2 separate regions of the Homo sapiens genome follow, and region 1 is linked to region 2. The links come from fine-mapping of genetic effects on gene expression. A gene starts in region 2. The other region holds a variant in brackets. All regions are shown on one strand. Distances are between the middles of the regions. Region 1 overlaps CMTM7 (CKLF like MARVEL transmembrane domain containing 7). Region 2 holds the start of CMTM7 (CKLF like MARVEL transmembrane domain containing 7).

The links.
Region 1: its variant is fine-mapped to the expression of CMTM7 in monocytes (CEDAR, PIP 0.95). The same link has a PIP of 0.9 or more in B cells, CD4 T cells, monocytes after LPS and monocytes after interferon gamma.

What each region holds. Positions count from the first base shown.
Region 1 is chr3:32,449,498-32,457,809 of GRCh38, reverse strand. CMTM7 (CKLF like MARVEL transmembrane domain containing 7) reads right to left here. Exons shown (of 5, transcript NM_138410.4): 3 at 8,258-8,312; 4 at 5,337-5,418; 5 at 2,282-3,569. The coding sequence ends at 3,556. Among named protein-coding and RNA genes, the nearest start is that of CMTM6, 49 kb to the left of the region's middle. RefSeq lists a silencer at 1,864-1,933 and an enhancer at 3,580-4,080. The variant G/C (reference allele first, on the strand shown) is at 3,207.
Region 2 is chr3:32,386,783-32,395,126 of GRCh38, reverse strand. It overlaps CMTM7 (CKLF like MARVEL transmembrane domain containing 7), which reads right to left and starts at 3,274. Exons shown (of 5, transcript NM_138410.4): 1 at 3,062-3,274. The coding sequence starts at 3,220.

The DNA.
Region 1 (8,312 bases), 63 kb before region 2:
TTTTAAATTTTTTTAATCAACTTTTATTTTAAGTTCCGGGGTCCATGTGAAGGATGCACATCATAGGTAAACGTGTGCCATGGTGGTTTGCTGCACAGATTAACCCATCACCTAGGTACTAAGCCCAGCATCCATCATCCATTAGCTACTACTTCTTTTTTTTTTTTTTTTTTTTTCCTGAGATGGAGTTTTGCTCTTGTTGCCCAGGCTGGAGTGCGATGGCGCCGCAATCTCGGCTCACTGCAACCTCCGCCTCCCGGGTTCAAGTGATTCTTCTGCCTCAGCCTCCCAAGTAGCTGGGATTACAGGCATATGCCATCACGCCCAGCTAATTTTTTGTATTTAGTAGAGAAGAGGTTTCGCCATGTTGGCCAGGCTGGTCTGGAACTCCTGACCTCAGGTGATCCACCTACCTAGGCCTCGCAAAGTGCTAGGATTACGGGCATGAGCCACCGCGCCCGGCCCATTAACTACTTCTTAAAAGGAATCTTTCTTCCAATGCAGCTGTGGATCCAGTGAGAAGTAGGGTTTGCTTCAGAAACCCGCCAACTGACACCATTTCTCATCTCCTTCCCCCTTTGGTGAAATCAGCCTCAGAGTTGCACCCACTTTACAGCATCTTTGATTCCAACAGTGTCTCACAAATACTGCAATGCACACACACCACTGGGACTCGGTTATGATGCAGATGATTCTATTTTAGTTGGTCTTTGTGGGGCTGGGATCCTGCAATTCTAACCAGCTGCCAGGTGATATCCACTTTGTGGACAAGGCTTAGGAATTCCTGGCTCTCATTTCAGACCTATTGCATCTCAATTTCTTGGAGGAAGGCTGGTCGGCTTCCCCAGGCCGTGCTGCACTGTGATGAGTTAATGCCTGGGTTTAGGGGCTGGTCCTCCATGGGGCAGCTGAATGGCACTGCCCCCCGGCTTAGATATTCACTCCCTAGGGTTGAAGCTGTGTCCAGGAGGAGTGAGTCACCATAGGGAAACCAGAGGGTCTCCTTCTCCCTACTGTCAACAGCATCCTCAATTGCCAATGGAGAGCCAGCTGTGTGCAGAGGTTGCCAAGATGACTGGGGCTCAAAGGTGCTGGCCCTGCTTCTAGAACGTACCTGAGTGGCTGGGGCGCCACTGGGGCTAAAAGAACTGGAGAAGCAGAGGATCTGAAGGTCATTGTCATACTTCAAAAGTGAAAAGCCAGTGTCCCCTTCACCAGGTTAGACGAGGTTAGTGGGCCTCTGGCAGGGAGGACCCCCACGACTCAGCTCAGAGCCGGCTGCTGGGGATGCGTTCACCCACCCAGTTCCCTACAGGTGTTTCATCATGCCCTCTGTCCACCATGGGTCCCAGCGCCCGGCTGAAAACTGCCCTCAGCTTCCAATCTTGACTTTAACAAAATTTAAGGTCCAGGAAACTGAAAGTAAATTATGTTCTCCAGCTCCCTTGCACCCAGGTGATTCGATCACTTTTGCAACATTAACCTGCTCATTTCCTGTCATTCTGGTACCTCTCTGGGGATTAAGATTAGAAAGATAACGATAAGTAAGCACGCTGCTCTGTTACTGAATTCCAAGGAGGTCACAGACAGGCCAGGATGGGCTTATTCTCTCCGTTATACAAAGGGGGAACTAAGGTTCAGCAAGATGACCCGTGCCAAGTCGGGGGCTAGTCAATGGCAGAGCTGGGCTCAACCCCACGTCTGCGGCTCCCAGCCTGACTGTCTTTCCACCATCCTTAGCTCTTTGCTTAAACATTTACTCCCTGGTGCTGGAGATGTGGCCATTTAGAAGGGATGGTTTTACCAGACAGTTTTTGGGAGGTCACAGAAACCCCAGTTTCTAAAAAGGCCCTGTGGTCTCAAACAGCCACCCCTCAGCCAAGCCACTGGCTGCATGGTCCACTGCTCGCTGTCTGTGGAGGCCTCACTTGGCTCTGCGTTTTGCTTTCCTTCCTCACTGAGCAGACTCTGGCTCCTGCTACTATTCCTCCAACTGTCCTCCACCCACCTTTGCCCTCCTAGGGGGATGCTCAAATGGTCAAACCCGGATCCTCGTTGCTTGGCGAGGCCTGCATTGTCACTACACAGGCAGGGGGCTCCCAGACCCAATGCCTCACCTGGACCGTGCCCTCCTCAGCTGAGACTCCTCCATTCCATTGCCCTGGAGGAGCCGACTGTGCCAGGGTCAGCTCAGCCATGTTCCCGCTCCAGCCCAGCTGGTACACAGGATCCCCTCCCATCAGCAGCACTCGGCTCCAGATACACCACGGGTGCTGCTTCCTTAGATCATCCCAGACAGAACCCGATGCCCCGAGCTGGCCAGCAGCCACAAGAGTAGCCCCAGAGCTCCAGCTCAAAGCCCACAGGGGCTGCTTCCATTTCCGGCAACACTCAGCAGAGGCAAGGATGGGGCTGGGAGTCAGGCAGACCTAGATCCTGAGCCCAGCTCCTCACTGGCTTGCCCTGTGCCTGGGGATGGAGCCCCGATTTCATTTCTAAAAATGTGGTCCTATAACCTGCCCCCTTGCAGTCACTACCATCGCTATTAGATGTGGTTGTGAATGTAGGTCCTTGCACACGGGGTTGCTCAAACATTGTTCCATCCCTCCTTTTTCTAGCCAACTGAGCAGCTCAAGATCAGCGAAACAGCACATTTAGGCCGAGATCATTAATCATCATAGTGTAAACACAACCCTTAGCTTGCTCTAAAGCTCTTTCCAAAATGAGAAGATTGGTATTGCAGGAGAAGGAGGACGTGAATATAATTGAGAACCTGCACATGTTTACCTAAAACTCTGCCCTGCTATACTATCCCCCAAGATGGAGAGAAAACCTGAAGTCCAGCAGTTCAGCAAGGGGCACACACAGAGCACGGGTGGAGGGCCATGGGCCAGACACAAGCTCGAATGGAAACTGTTTCAGGCCAGGTTTTACAGCCTTCATCTGGTTCAATAAGAAATCCTTGTGCAACTGGCCGAGTCAATATTTTATTAAAAAACACACAAACACATGCACACTGGTAACAAAGGCAGAGATGGAGAGGAGACACAAGATCTCCTTGGGGACAGGCTGACCACATAGTGTTTCTACAGGCACGCCTCACTTCAGGAAAGAGGGTATCTCTAAGACCGGACTGACAAGCTAGATAAATTAGGACAGGGCTTTGTTTCTTAAGGCACTTCACTCCCCTGAGGAGTGAAGTAGAA[G/C]GGATTTAGGCGGGAGTATTCACAAACCCCTTCAGCTGTGCTAAGTGGGGTTCATCAGTACCTGAGGTGGTTCTAGAAGCAGGAAGGCAGAAAACATTTCCCTGGAGGCTGCTTTCCTTTCCCAGAATGGGAGGGATGTTCTCCCCGGAAGGCTGGAGGAAGAGTTTCCGGCTGGCTCAGGAGCTCAGGGAGCTGGCTTCCTGGGAGAGCAGGAAGAGGGTGCAGGCCTTTCCTGGTGCCCACCAGCCTGACAGGACTTTGGCACAGGAACACAGGTCCAGAGGCCTCGCCTGGAGTACACGTCCTCCTCTCTGCAAAGCTCCTGAGGGGCCTAGGGGTTGTGGCCTCATCAGACGGCTGCATCTTGGGAAGGAAATGGCAGTCAGGACAGCTTGCCAGGGATGTGGCCCACCCACAAGCCACACTCCACAGGTTTGACTCCAAGTTCTGCTCAGGGGGGCACCTGTGTCCTCCACCCAGTGCCGACTTGCACTGAGATTATTCCATTTTTTAAAAATACATTTCCAAACAAGGAAAAAACTTCGGTAGTGCAGAGGTGACTCCCATCCGCACTCCCCCGACCTCAGTCTTACTCCTCAGCAGCAACCTCCCAAGCCTTTTAGCCATTTCTTTTGGTGATTCTTCCATAATTCAAAAAACCAATTTATACCAATATTTATAGATTTATCCTGTTAGACACCACCTATTAACTTCTCTTTTCCCCTATATTCTCTACGTTTAAAAATCATTCTTTTTTTTCTTAAACAGCTTTACTGGGATATTTTAATAATTCACATACCATACAATTCTCCCATCTAAAGTGTTTTTCAGTATATTCACAGGACTGTGCAACCACAATTTTAGAGCCTTTTCATCACCTCAAAAAGAAGCCTCATCCTCATTAGCAGTCACACCTGAGTCCTCTCCCAGCAGCCCCAGGCCGCCATGGGTCTACCTTGTGTCTCTATGAATCTGCCTGCTCTAGACGATTCTTATTAGTGGAATCCTACACTACATGGGCTCAGTGTAGGATTCCATGAGTAATGCCCTCAAAGAGGAGGCAAGTTAAATAAACTGCACAGTCATGCGATGGACTTAATGCTGCAACCCACGGAGTTGCTAAGAATTCCTAATGATGTTGGGAAAATGTTTGGTCAGTGGCTAAGTAGGAGAAAAAACATATTATGAAACAGCACATGAAGTTTGATCCTTTTAATAAAAGCAACAGATATATATATTTTCAGAGAGAAAATATCGAAAGGATACTCAGTGCTACTTCTGGGTAGTGTGATGACAGATGGCTTTTTCTTATTTTATTTTATTTTTTAAGAGACGGAGTCTGACTATGTTGCTCAGATTGGTCTCAAACTCCTGGGCTCAGGTGATCCTCTTGCCTCAGCCACCTGAGTAGCTGGTACTATGGGTACACACCACTGTCCCTGGTTCAGACGGTTTCTATTAAACATATTTTTTATCTGTATTTTCTAAAAACCTACATTTTATTTTTGTCATTAGGAAACTTAAGAAAAAGCTGGCTGGGTGCGGTGGTTCATGTCTATAATCCCAGCACTTTCAGAGGCTGAGGTGGGAGGACTGCTTGAGCCCAGGAGTTTGAGACCAGCCTGGGCAACATGGTGAGACTCCAACTCTAAAAAAAAAAAAAAAAAAAAAAAAAAAAAAAAAATTGAAATTAGGCATGGTGGTGCACACCTGTAGTCCCAGGTACTCAGGAGGCTGAGGTTGGAGGATCACTTGAGCCTGGGAGGCGGAGGCTGCAGTGAGCTCTGATCGTACCACTGCACCAGCCTGGACAACAGGGCAAAACCCAATCTCAAAAAAAAAAAAAGAAAAGTAAAGAAAAAGAAAGAAAGGAAGCAAGAAAGAGAAAAAAGCTTGGCCACCCGAGGCTGAAATGTTAGGGCATCCTTGGATGTGTGGAGATGGGAATGTGAGGGGAGATTCTGGGGTCACATCTTCCCCTTTGCTGGCCCCTGTGCTCTAATACTACTTCTAAAGTCCCCTTGGAACACAGCCTTCTCAACAGCAGGGTTTGTCCCTATGGCTGAAGTCAAGAACAAGCCATCCCCCTGTTCCTGAGAGATCCTCTGTGCACAGATAACCAGAACTCACCTGTGGACTGGGTTACACACGAGATCTTATAGGACAGCCATATGCTTGCCATGCAGAGGAAGGTGGCCATGAAACCAAAGATCTGCAGTGGAGAGAGGGGAGAGGAAGTTCACAGGCCATAGGGCTAATTACTCGGGCAATCCTGTCTGCTTCTCATCTCTGTGCTTGTTCCCTTCATGTCTCTGGCCAGAAAGGAGCTTGGAGAGTCATCTAACCCAACCACCTCATCCTGGATCAGGTGCAGAGAGGAAGCCCCGCGAGGCCCAGCCACTGGCCCCAGTCCTCCAGGTTGGGCCAGGTCAGGGCTGGCAGCCAGGCCTCTCGGTCTTCACTCTTGGCAGCTTCAGTGCCTGGTCTGGGTTTACATTTACAAGCAAGCTGGGGCTAAGCCAATGGACTTTGATTATCCTGGACCAAAAGAGAAGAAAAGGATGAAATTTTAATTTGGGTTAAAAAAATCTGAACGTTCCCATGATTTGTGGTGTAGTGGCGTTGTTCGCATTTCATTTGTAATGACTTTCTGTTCCATTCTGGCTTCATAGCCGTATTAGAGCCAGAAGCCGAGGCCTTTACATCTAGGTTTACGTTTGTACATATTAAACAATATTAGACTCAACTAAGTCAAGGCAGCACCCTTTCCCTTTCTCAGGGTCATCCAGCGCTCAAGTGTGAGGAAGGCTGACCTAGCCCAGCCCCCTCACTTGTAGATGAGATTCGGGTGCTGGGAGACGAAGAGTGCCTGTGGGAGGCTCATCAAATGGTCGAGGAAGAGGCAGTAGCTTCTTCTGGAATCTCTGGGCTTTGAAGCCTGCAGCCATTTTCCTTGCTTGTGAACAACACCGGCAGCTGCAGTGGTGAAAACTTACTGACCACTTTACTACATCCCTACCAGGGTGTGAGGCCCTGTGGGTGTATTGATTCCTTTAACCCTCACAACTCTGCTGGGTGGGTGCTAGGATTACCCACCCTGCTCCTCCATTTCACAGCTAAAGAAACAGAGGTACAGGCGGTCATCTGTTTTGCCGAAGGCCACAGAGCCAGCAAGGGCCAGATATGGGATGGGAGCCCAGGGAGCCTGGCTCCAGAGTCCGCACTCTGCAGTACCGGGTGCCTAGGTGTTCTCAGACCCACACAAAGGCCTCCACTTCACTACACCGCCACTGGTGTCCAGTGAGAATGGCGCAGGGGCAGCTAAGGGTAGGATTTTCAACAAGGTTTGGTTTTCTTTTCAAGCCCAGATGCTGCTTTACATAAACAGCTGCCCCCACCAGCCCACATCCACTTCTTCCCCGGGTTTCTTTTCCTGGGCTCCTTTTGTACCAATTGTCTACAGCACATAATTAGCCTATTAGAGCCTGTCCCGGCCTCTCATTGTCTGTTCTGCACAATTAGCACGTTATATACCATCCCGGTCCCCAACTGTCTGCACTGCATAATTGAACAGTTTATTATATCGCTACAGAATGCTATTCTAGACTACAACGCCTTGTTTACTAATTGTTTCATGTGTCTTGTCTCCTAAGCTAGATGACCACTTTCTTATAAGCAGGGACCATATTTTAAAAATTTCTTCTAACTTCCTCATAGCCCAGGTTTGGTCCTAGGCACACAGACAGCATATGATGAATGTTAGCTATAGAGATTCCAGGGCTAAACAGTTATGTGCAACCTGAATTACTAAACACAGTGGGAATCTCCTCAAGTGGGCCCGGAAACACAGTGGGCACAGGTCTCCTGTGTGCCTCTTCCAGTACCCTGCACTGTAGCTGGGCAGGTGTTAAGCTTCAGGGGGCAACCATCCCTCTCTTCAGAGACAGCAGAGAGAGGGGGCAGAGAGGTGTGATGGTGGGCTGTGGGAGGGCCATGTGGAGCATCAGTGTTGGGAGGTTTGGCCACCCTCTACAGTGACCTTCTGCCCCCATGCTGACCTTCAGAGGAGAGACTCCATCCCTCAGTGGAATTCCAGGAGCCAACCCACTCCCAGGCCAAAGTCTGGAAAATTTTGGTAATATACGTAAGTGAAAGACAATGAATGTCACATACAGAGAGAGCTTTTCTTTTTCTCTTTTTCTTTTTTTAAGACACAGGGTCTCAGTACGTTGCCCAGGCCAGACCGAACTCCTGGGCACAAGCATTCCTGCCGAGTGCCTGGGACTACAGGTGCATGCTAGCTACCACATCTGGCTTGAGAGAGCTTTTCTCAAAACTCATTTTTAAAATCTTGTCTGCTCATCAGTGAAGCAAATCAGTGTTGGCCCACAGGCCACTGAACTATAAATAGTTAGCTAAATCAGAAATCAGATGACAGGAATCTATGAATCTTTAAAAAAATAGCATATACATCTGTATGTATATACATATATATGTATGTATATATCTCACAGGACTGTATTTTTGTATATTTCCATCTACTTCTATTTATGGCTATCAGATGGATCAATTTTTGCCTCTGAAAGATACAGGAGTATTATTTCCTGGCCTGAATACTGTTAAAAATCAGGAATGGCAAAGCTCAGGCTCATGGCATGTATCTCTAATTGATCACAGTACATTTCCCACTGGGCCCAAAAGAGGCTCCAGCATCTGTCTCTGCATAGTGCTGAGGCAGCCAACGAGCAAATGATCAGAGTGGGTGTGTGAATTAAAACCCGCCTGGCCCCCTGATTTCAGTAGTGCCTGTAAGAGAGAGAGGCCTGGGCTGCTGGGGTCTATGAATTTGCTGGCAGCCCTGACAATCCACCTTCTGGGACTGTACGCCTCTGCTTAAGGCTCTTTGGAGAGAGCTGATGGCTGGATCAAGGTAGGTATTGATTCTATGAAGGGAATGCCCCAGAAACCAAGCCCTTCTCTTCCCCCATCAGGAAGAAAATGAGCATTTTAAATAAGAATTCATTCCTAAAGGCTCCCCAAAACATCCTCACCGCTCCGGCTACCAGTCCGCTCTGGTTGTAACTCTTGGAAGCTGCCACAATGGAG
Region 2 (8,344 bases):
GAGGCTGAGGTGGGACAATCGCCGAGCCCAGGAGGTTAAGGCTGCAGTAAGCCATGATAACACCACTGTCCTCCAGCCTGGGTGACAGAGCAAGACCCTCTCTGTCTCGCTCAAAAAAAAAAAAGTCATTTAGCCGAGCGCGGCAGCTCACACCTGTAATACCAGCGCTTTGGGAGGCAGAGGCGGGGGCGGATCATGAGGTCAAGAGATCAAGACCATCCTGGCCAACATGGTGAAACCCCATCTCTACTAAAAATACAAAAATTAGCTGGGTGTGGTGGCACGTGCCTGTAGTCCCAGCTACTCGTGAGGCTGAGACAGGAGATTTGATTGAACTCGGGAGGCAGAGGTTGCAGTGAGCTGAGATCGTTCCACTGCACTCCAGCCTGGTGACAGAGCAAGACTCCCTCTCAAGAAAGAAAGAAAAAAAAGAGTGCTTTAAAGTCAAAAGTCAAAACCTGTGACTGTGTCTCTACTCCAAAAAGGAAGACCAAAGAAACTGAATTATCATGGCCAGAGGATTATAAAAATTACACATGTATAAATGACATGTCAAGTACACACATTCACTCAGAAACTCATTTTCTAGTAATGGTGGACCCAGAAGAGGCCAAGACAAGGGAAGTCATTCTCCAGTGGAACAGCCTTTGCAATGATTTCTTAAGACAACGTGTTGGCAGATCTATTGATCAGATCATGATGAAAACATTTCATGAGAAGCTGAGGACAAAAGGGTCAACCTGTTCAGTATGAAACTGAGAAACTGATGGTCAAAATGAGAGACCCATAGAAAGAAAGCCCCAATGGGTGGCATTAATTTAGCTGCTTCTGCCCTTCCCCAATGTTAAAACTTGGCTAAACAAGCATTTTCCAGCAAAGAAGACAAATGAACCTCAAATGCCCAAGCAGAGTCTTAGAAAAGAGGAGAAGTGGGAAAATAGGGAGGAGTTAGATAAGAGGCCCAAGTAGATAGCCCTAACTAGGACTAATACAGCCATCCTGCAAGGGCAACTTTGCTCCCAGAGGGTCTGATCAAACAAGCCTGCAGCAGTGATGGGGAATCCTCCAGGGCAGGTGTAAGACTCCTCAGCATGGTTTTAAGAGGAGCACATAGAGAATAAGCAACCAGATAAAGAAATTATTCAAGTCTTTGTTCTCTTTTTTGGAACAACAGGCCCCACTCTTGCCACTTGCAAATTGGCCCAAGGACCACAGGCCAGAGGCTAGCTGAGGAGCTTAAGATGAGATGGAGATTTCTCATCTCCCAGTATCTTTATTCATCAAAATCATGGACCACATGAAGGCTTCTCATCTCCATTACCTTTTCTTTGTACCTTTTTTTTTTTTTTTTTTTGAGACAGGCCTCCCTCCGTCACGCAGACTAGTGCAGTGGCACAGTTCACTGACCTTCTCAGTTCAATCAATCCTCTCACCTCAGCCTCCCAAGTAACTGGGACTAGAGGCCCATGCCAACCACACAAGGTTTTAAAATTTTTTTTGTAGAGATGGGGTCTCGCTATGTTGCCGAGGTTTCATCTCCATTATGTTTGTGTACCAAACTCATAGACCAACAAGAAGACTTTTCATCCCACAATATCTTTGTCCAGCAAACTCAGGGGCCAAGATGGAGGCTTCTGATCCCATTCTCTGTCTACCAAACTCATCCCTTCCAATGCTCAGGTAGGATATGTCTCACCCCAGCCCATCTTTTAAGGATGGTGAGATGGGCTGGTCTCTTCTATTTGGCTGATCAAATCTCTTAGCCTGGGCCAAAAAATGCCCTGCTCAAACCCAACAATGCTCAGCACCAGATTTTTTTGTACGTTGCTGAAATGGCTCTTCCTAGTTTTTGGTCTATCTAGACACCGTTCTTAGGGAGGCAGGAACTCAGCGCCCCTTCTCTTTAGGTCTGGCCCAAGCAAGACATGAGGGCCACCTCATGCACACTCAGTGTCTGGAATGGCAGTGCTATAGATGCACAGACGTCCTGTGCCCAACCCCCTGGGGCCAGGCCACCTTAGCAGGCCCCAGCTTCTGGGTGTGTGACCTTGTCCAGCCCCACACTCCTTTCCCCACACCTCTTTTTGAAACTTACCGCTCCCCTCCCCACCGTTCTTGGTGCAAACATTACAATGGTGGAGACTCACAAACAGCCCAACCCAGTTTCAAAACACATCATACAAACGGAAAAGTTGTTTCAGATTACAAACTTTTAAAGAAGAAAAAAACGGGAGGGGAGAAAAGAAAAGAGTGGGGAACAAGAGAATCGGCCAGGCAACGTCTGCCCTGGTAGGAGGCCCTTGTGCTGAGTTGGTCACAATCCAAGCCCAGACACTCATCCTGCCTGGCTCCACGGGTGACTCCCATTCAACAGTCTGGCTCCCCTACATGAGTACCAGCCCCTGACAACAGGCCTTTCCCAACTGACCCCCTGCCCTCCAGAGCCCCCTGAGACCCGGGCCCTCCCTCGGAACTTGAGGGCGCAGGGGACCAGGACGGCCGTCTCAACGGTCCCAGTTCTTTTTCCCCACTATGGAACACAAGACCCTCTGACCTCCTCCTTCGAGCGAAACTGCACACAGAGCAGGGAAGCCCTGCCGCGCTGGGTTCGGAGGAAAGAGGAGGCCGTGGACGGGGAAGAGGTCGGGTTTCGCTCCCTCAGCGCCGCCGCCTGGGCGACTCTTCCACCCCCGGCTCGGGTTCGAAGCGGCGCGGCCCAGAGAAGAGGAAGAAAGACGAAAAGGAACTTTGCCCGTGGTTTCAGTCAGTAGGCGGGTCAGGCTTCGCAGGGGGGTGGCCGGAGAAACTTGCGACCCTGGCGACCTGGGTCCGCGGGAGCAAGGGCCGGGGCGGCTCTGGGGACTGAGCTCCAGCGCGGGGGCTGCGGCAGCAACTTTCCCGGAGGAAGCCTGCCGCGAACTTTAGCGACGCGGTGCCCCGCCCGCTGCGCGATGCTCCCTGGGCTCCGGCCGGGTCCAGACGCCCGGCGCGTCCGCTCCCGGACCCCTGCTTTCCCGGGACGCCCTGTAGAACCTCGGCCTCGCGCCCCGCGCTCACTTACCATTTGCGCCACTTTCAGCAGGGCCGCGTGGGTGCGGGGGTAGCTGAGGTCCAGCAGCCCCTCCAAGGGGCTCGCGCTGGGCTGGGCCGCGCCGGCCCCGGGTCCGAGCGCGCTGCCGCTGCTGCACGTGGTGCGGACGAGCCCGGCTCCGTGCGACATTGCGCGGCCCCAGCTCGCTGGCCGCCTCCCCGGGCAGCTGCCCAGGGGCCAGATACAGAGGGCGGGCCGGGGGCGGGCGGGGGCGGGCGCTGGCGAGGGCGGGGCGCCCGGGTCCCTGCCCCGCTGCTGGAGACGCGGAGCCGCCTCTGGCGGGATCCCTCCGGTGACTGGCCGGCCGGCGCCTTCCAGAAAGGTAGCGGCAGTCCCGGCCCTCGTAGATGCGCGGAAGTTAGACTGGAGCGAGAGGAAACCGGATGCCTTGGGTCGTGGCCTCTCCGAGGTGGGCAAGGCCCGGACCACAGCTGGTACTGAGCCTCCTGGGATTTTGTGTGGGTGCGGCTGCGGATGTGTGCTGAGAGCACTTTACTGAAGTTTAACTTACATAAAGTGTGATGCCCAGACCTTACGTGTTCAGCTCCACTAATTTTTATATATGTGTACACCTGTGTAACCGTCGCCCAGATCAACAAATAGAACGTGCCCATCACCCCAGAAAGTTCCGTGGTGGGCCTTCCTGACCTACCTTCCTTCCCTGGCCCCATCCTTATCCAGCCTCAGGCAACCACTACAGTGTATTCTGCTTTCTGTCACTGTAGGTTCATTTTGCCTGTTCTTGGACTTCATAAACTTGAAGTAATACAGAATATTCTCCTTCAACATAACAAATTAGAAGATCCATCCTGTTGGGAATATAAGTAGTTCATATCAGTTCCTTCCTTTTTATTGCTGAGTAGTACTCCACTGTGCAAAGATACCGTATTTTTTAAACGTTTACCCAGTTGATGGACACCAAGCTTGCTTCCTTCCTACCTGCTTGCCTGCCTCCTTCCCTCCTTCCGGCCTTTCCCCCCTCCCTCATCTCTTTTCTGGCTATAGTCACTATTATGGTACACGTTTTTTTGGTGGATACAAACTCTCATTTCTCTGGGACAAATATCTGCAAGTGAACGCACTGGTTACAAGGGGAGCATATGTTTGCTTCTGTTAGAAGCTGTCAGCCTGGGGAACATGGCCAGACCTCATTTCTACAAAAAACAAAAAATAAAAATAAATTAGCTGGGCCGGGCGCGGTGGCTCACGCCTGTAATTCCAGCACTTTGGGAGGCCGAGGCGGGCGGATCACGAGGTCAGGAGATCGAGACCATTCTGGCTAACACGGTGAAACCCCGTCTCTACTAAAAATACAAAAAATTAGCTGGGCGTGGTGGCGGGCGCCTGCAGTCACAGCTACTCGGGATGCTGAGAATGGCGTGAACCCGGGAGGCGGAGCTTGCAGTGAGCAGAGCTTGCGCCACTGCATTCGAGCCTGGGCGACAGAGCGAGACTCTGTCTCAAAATAAAAATAAAAATAAAAATAAATAAATAAATAAATTAGCTGGGTGCAGTGGCACATGCCTGTTCAGGAGGCTGAGTCTGGAGGAGCCTTGGAGCCCAGGAGGTTGAGGCTGCAGTGAGCCATGACAGTGGCATTGCACTCCAGCCTGGGCCACAGAGCAAGACCTTGTCTCAATTAAAAAAAAAAAAAAAGACAAGAAAAAGAAAAAGCTGTCAAACAGCTATCCAAGTGACATTCTATTCTGTATCCCTTTTGGGTTGTTTTAAAAATGAAGAGGCCAGGCGTGGTGGCTCACACCTATAATCCCAGCACTTTGGGAAGTCAAGGCATGAAGATCCCTGGAGGCCAGGAGTCCGAGATTGCAGTGAGCTATGATCTTGCCACCGCACTCTTGTCTGGGTGACAGAGTGAGACACTGTCTCTTAAAAAAAGAAAAAGAAAAAGAAAAGGAAAAAAACATAAAAATGAAGACAGGCCCAAACGGGACTACCAAAACGAGGTATGTTATCATGTTCCTTTTGAGCAGTGTCCCTGTGGCCATACTTACATTTATTCATTTGGAGATAACATCAAAAAATCTGGCTGGGCACGGTGGCTCATGTCTGTAATCCCAAAATCAAGCTCACAAGCCCAAGTTTGACACCAGCAAGGGCAACATGGAGAAACCCCATCTCTACAAAAAAATACAAAAATTAACTGGGCATGGTGGCACATGCCTGTAGTCCCAGCTACTCAGGAGGCTGAGGTGGGAGGATTGCTTGAGCCCGGGAGGTTGAAGCTGCAGTGAGTCATGATTACAACACTGTACTCCAGGCTGGGTGACAGAGCAAGACCCTGCCTCAAGAACAAAACAAAGCAAAGTGAAACATAAAACTATCTTTGTGAGTTTATTCCCTGCCAGTGCTGTCTTGTCATCAGAAGAGTTTTCGATGTGGCAAAGTCCTAATAATTCTTGTTGGTGGATGATACCCATGCAATATCTGTTTTGGCAAGTCTCTTAGGTGATTCTGATGCACACTCAAATTTGAGAACCACTGTCATTGCCAGAGTCCACTGCAGTTGAAACATTTGGGGATTTATTACACTATTTATTTCACCTTTATGTACATTTGACAATTTTCATGACCAAGAAAAATTGCCTTCCACGTGTGTCTTCTCTGTAGACAACAGTCACAGCTGCCTGGTACCTCCATTTGTTTCTCTGTAATTCAGGAATAATTGCATCTAGGGGCTGCTGTGACAATGTGATAGATATGCAGGTGTGCTGTGACATTTCTGGCTCTATACCCACAGGCATGAAGTTAGTACTGTGTATCATTTTTTTATGTAGATGTACATTTCACTTCTGTACTTGTCTAAGGCTTCAGGACCCACAGTGGAGATAACAGGGCATCTTTGTTGAGATGAGGGTTTCAGGGAAGCAGAAAAACCAAGTGCTGGATCATTTCTCCTTTGAGGGGCCTTTGTCCAATTCAGCAGTCTTCTAACAGTGATTTTCAGTGTATAGCCCCCCAACCAGCAGTACCTGCGAACTTGTGAGAAATGCAGATTCTAGGGGCCCACTCTGACCTGCTGAATCAGAAACTCTAGGGGTAGGGCTCAGCAGTGTGTGTCTTAACAAGTCTTCCCAACCCCACCCTCACTCCCCACCCCCCTTCACCATCATTCTGTGATTCTGATGCATACTCAAGTTTGAGAACAACTATCTCTTCCTGAGTCTGCTCAGAAACATTGCTGGGCTTTTCTGCCTGGTGTTGACTAATGCACCACCCACCTCTAATCAGAAGTAATCACTGTGCTGGGCACTCTGTGTTAATCACTTTATTATGATCACTTAAGAGCTTGAGCAAGATGCTTGCCAGTGCAAGGGCCATTGCTGGCCTGACTTACAAGAAGAGGCTTCAGAGGCTTGCCAAGTGCACTGAGATGTCTACACTAGTGTGTTGTCTGCTAGATGTGAATAGCTGCCCCTTGGGAAAGCAAGGTCTTAGGCAAAGGGCTTCATAGCCCACTTTAAAGATGTCACACTCTAAGAGGGAACCAACCAGGTAGGTGACCTCTGAATACCTGGTGAGAAATCAAGATGTCCAAGTTCTCCTTTTCTCTACACCGAGGGATTGCAGGTGGCTTATTGACAGTTTAAAGCTTCAATTCGAGTGGTACTCTGACTATAACTCTTCTTCACCAGTGTGTTTATGATGTTATATCTGATCAGATATAATGAAAAAAGTAATAAAATTAGAGTTGACTCTGTATTAGTCACAGTGCTTTTGATGAGACAAACTAAAATCAAGCAAAAAGAAGAGTTCATTCAAGCTGGGAGCAGTGGTGCATGCCTGTAGTCCCAGCTACTCAGGAGACTGGGGTAGGAAGATTTCTTGAGCCCTGAAGTTCCAGGCCAGCCTGGGCAACATAGCAAGACCCTGTCTTTAAAAACAAAACAAAACAAAAAACAAAATAGGCTTGGCACGGTGGCTCATGCCTATAATCCCAATATTTTGGAAGGCCGAGGCAGGAGGATCATTTGAGGCCAGGATTTTGTGACCAGCCTGGGCAGCATAGTGAGACCCCCATCTCTACAAAAAATGAAAAAATTGGCCAGATGTGTAGTCCAAGCAACTTAAGAAGCTGAGCGGGGGGAAGATCACTTGAGCCCAAGAGTTCAATGTTACAGTGAGCCATAATCGTGCCACTACACTCCAGCCTGGGCAACAGAGTGAGACCTTGTCTCAAAAACAAACAAACAAACTAATAAAAAGCAAAACAAAATAATTCATTGGCTTGAGTAACTGTGATATGCAGAGGTATACACCCACTTCAGGCATGGCTGGATCCAGGTGCTCCTCAGGCACAGTCAGGACCTCCATCTCCTGGCTTCACTCTGCTCTGTGTTGGCTTTTCAGGCAGGCCCTCTCATGAGCTCTGACAGCTCAGGCTTACACAATAATCCTGCCTTCGTTATTTCAGCCTGTCTTTTCCAGTGGCTCTGGTACTGTCTTAGGCTGCCATAACAAAATATCACATACTGGGTGGCTTCTCAACAAGAATTCACTTCTCACAATTCTGGAGACTAGAAGTTCAAAATCCAGTTGCCATCAGGGCTGGTTTCTGGTGAGGCCTCTCTTCATGACTTTAGATGGCCACCTTCTTGCTGTGTCCACACATGGCCTTTTCTCTGTGTACATGGAAAGAGAGAGAGAGATCTCTGGTGTCTCTTCCTAAAGGGACACCAGTCCTATTGGATTCTGGCCCCACTCTTATGACCTCATTTAACCATATTATCTCCCCAAAGAGTCCATCTCCAAATACAGTCACACTTGGGGGTAAGGCTGCCACCTATGTATTTGGGGCAGGGAGGACACACAATTCAGTCCATAATAGGCACTATCTCTCATTAGTCCAAATATGGGTCATGGTTCCATCTTTCAACGAATTACTATGGCCAGAGGAGTGGAACATTTTTGGTGGCCAGGTCAAGTTCTACCTACCCATGAAGCTGGGGGTGGGATAGGTTCAGCCCAGTAGAACCACAGGAGCTGAGTGAGGAAGGGGTGGTTCCCAAAAGGAAAACCAGGGTGCGAGTATCAGAAAGCGGAGTGAATATTAGGCAGTGTTATGCACTGAATGTTTGTGTCCCCCCATCATTTAAAAGTTGAAGACTTAACGCCCAATGTGATGACATTTGGAGATGGGGCCTGTGGGCAATAGTTAGACTTAGGTGAGATCATGAGGGTGGGGCCCTCAGGGGGGGATTGGTGTCCTTATAAAAAAGACACCAGAGAACCTGC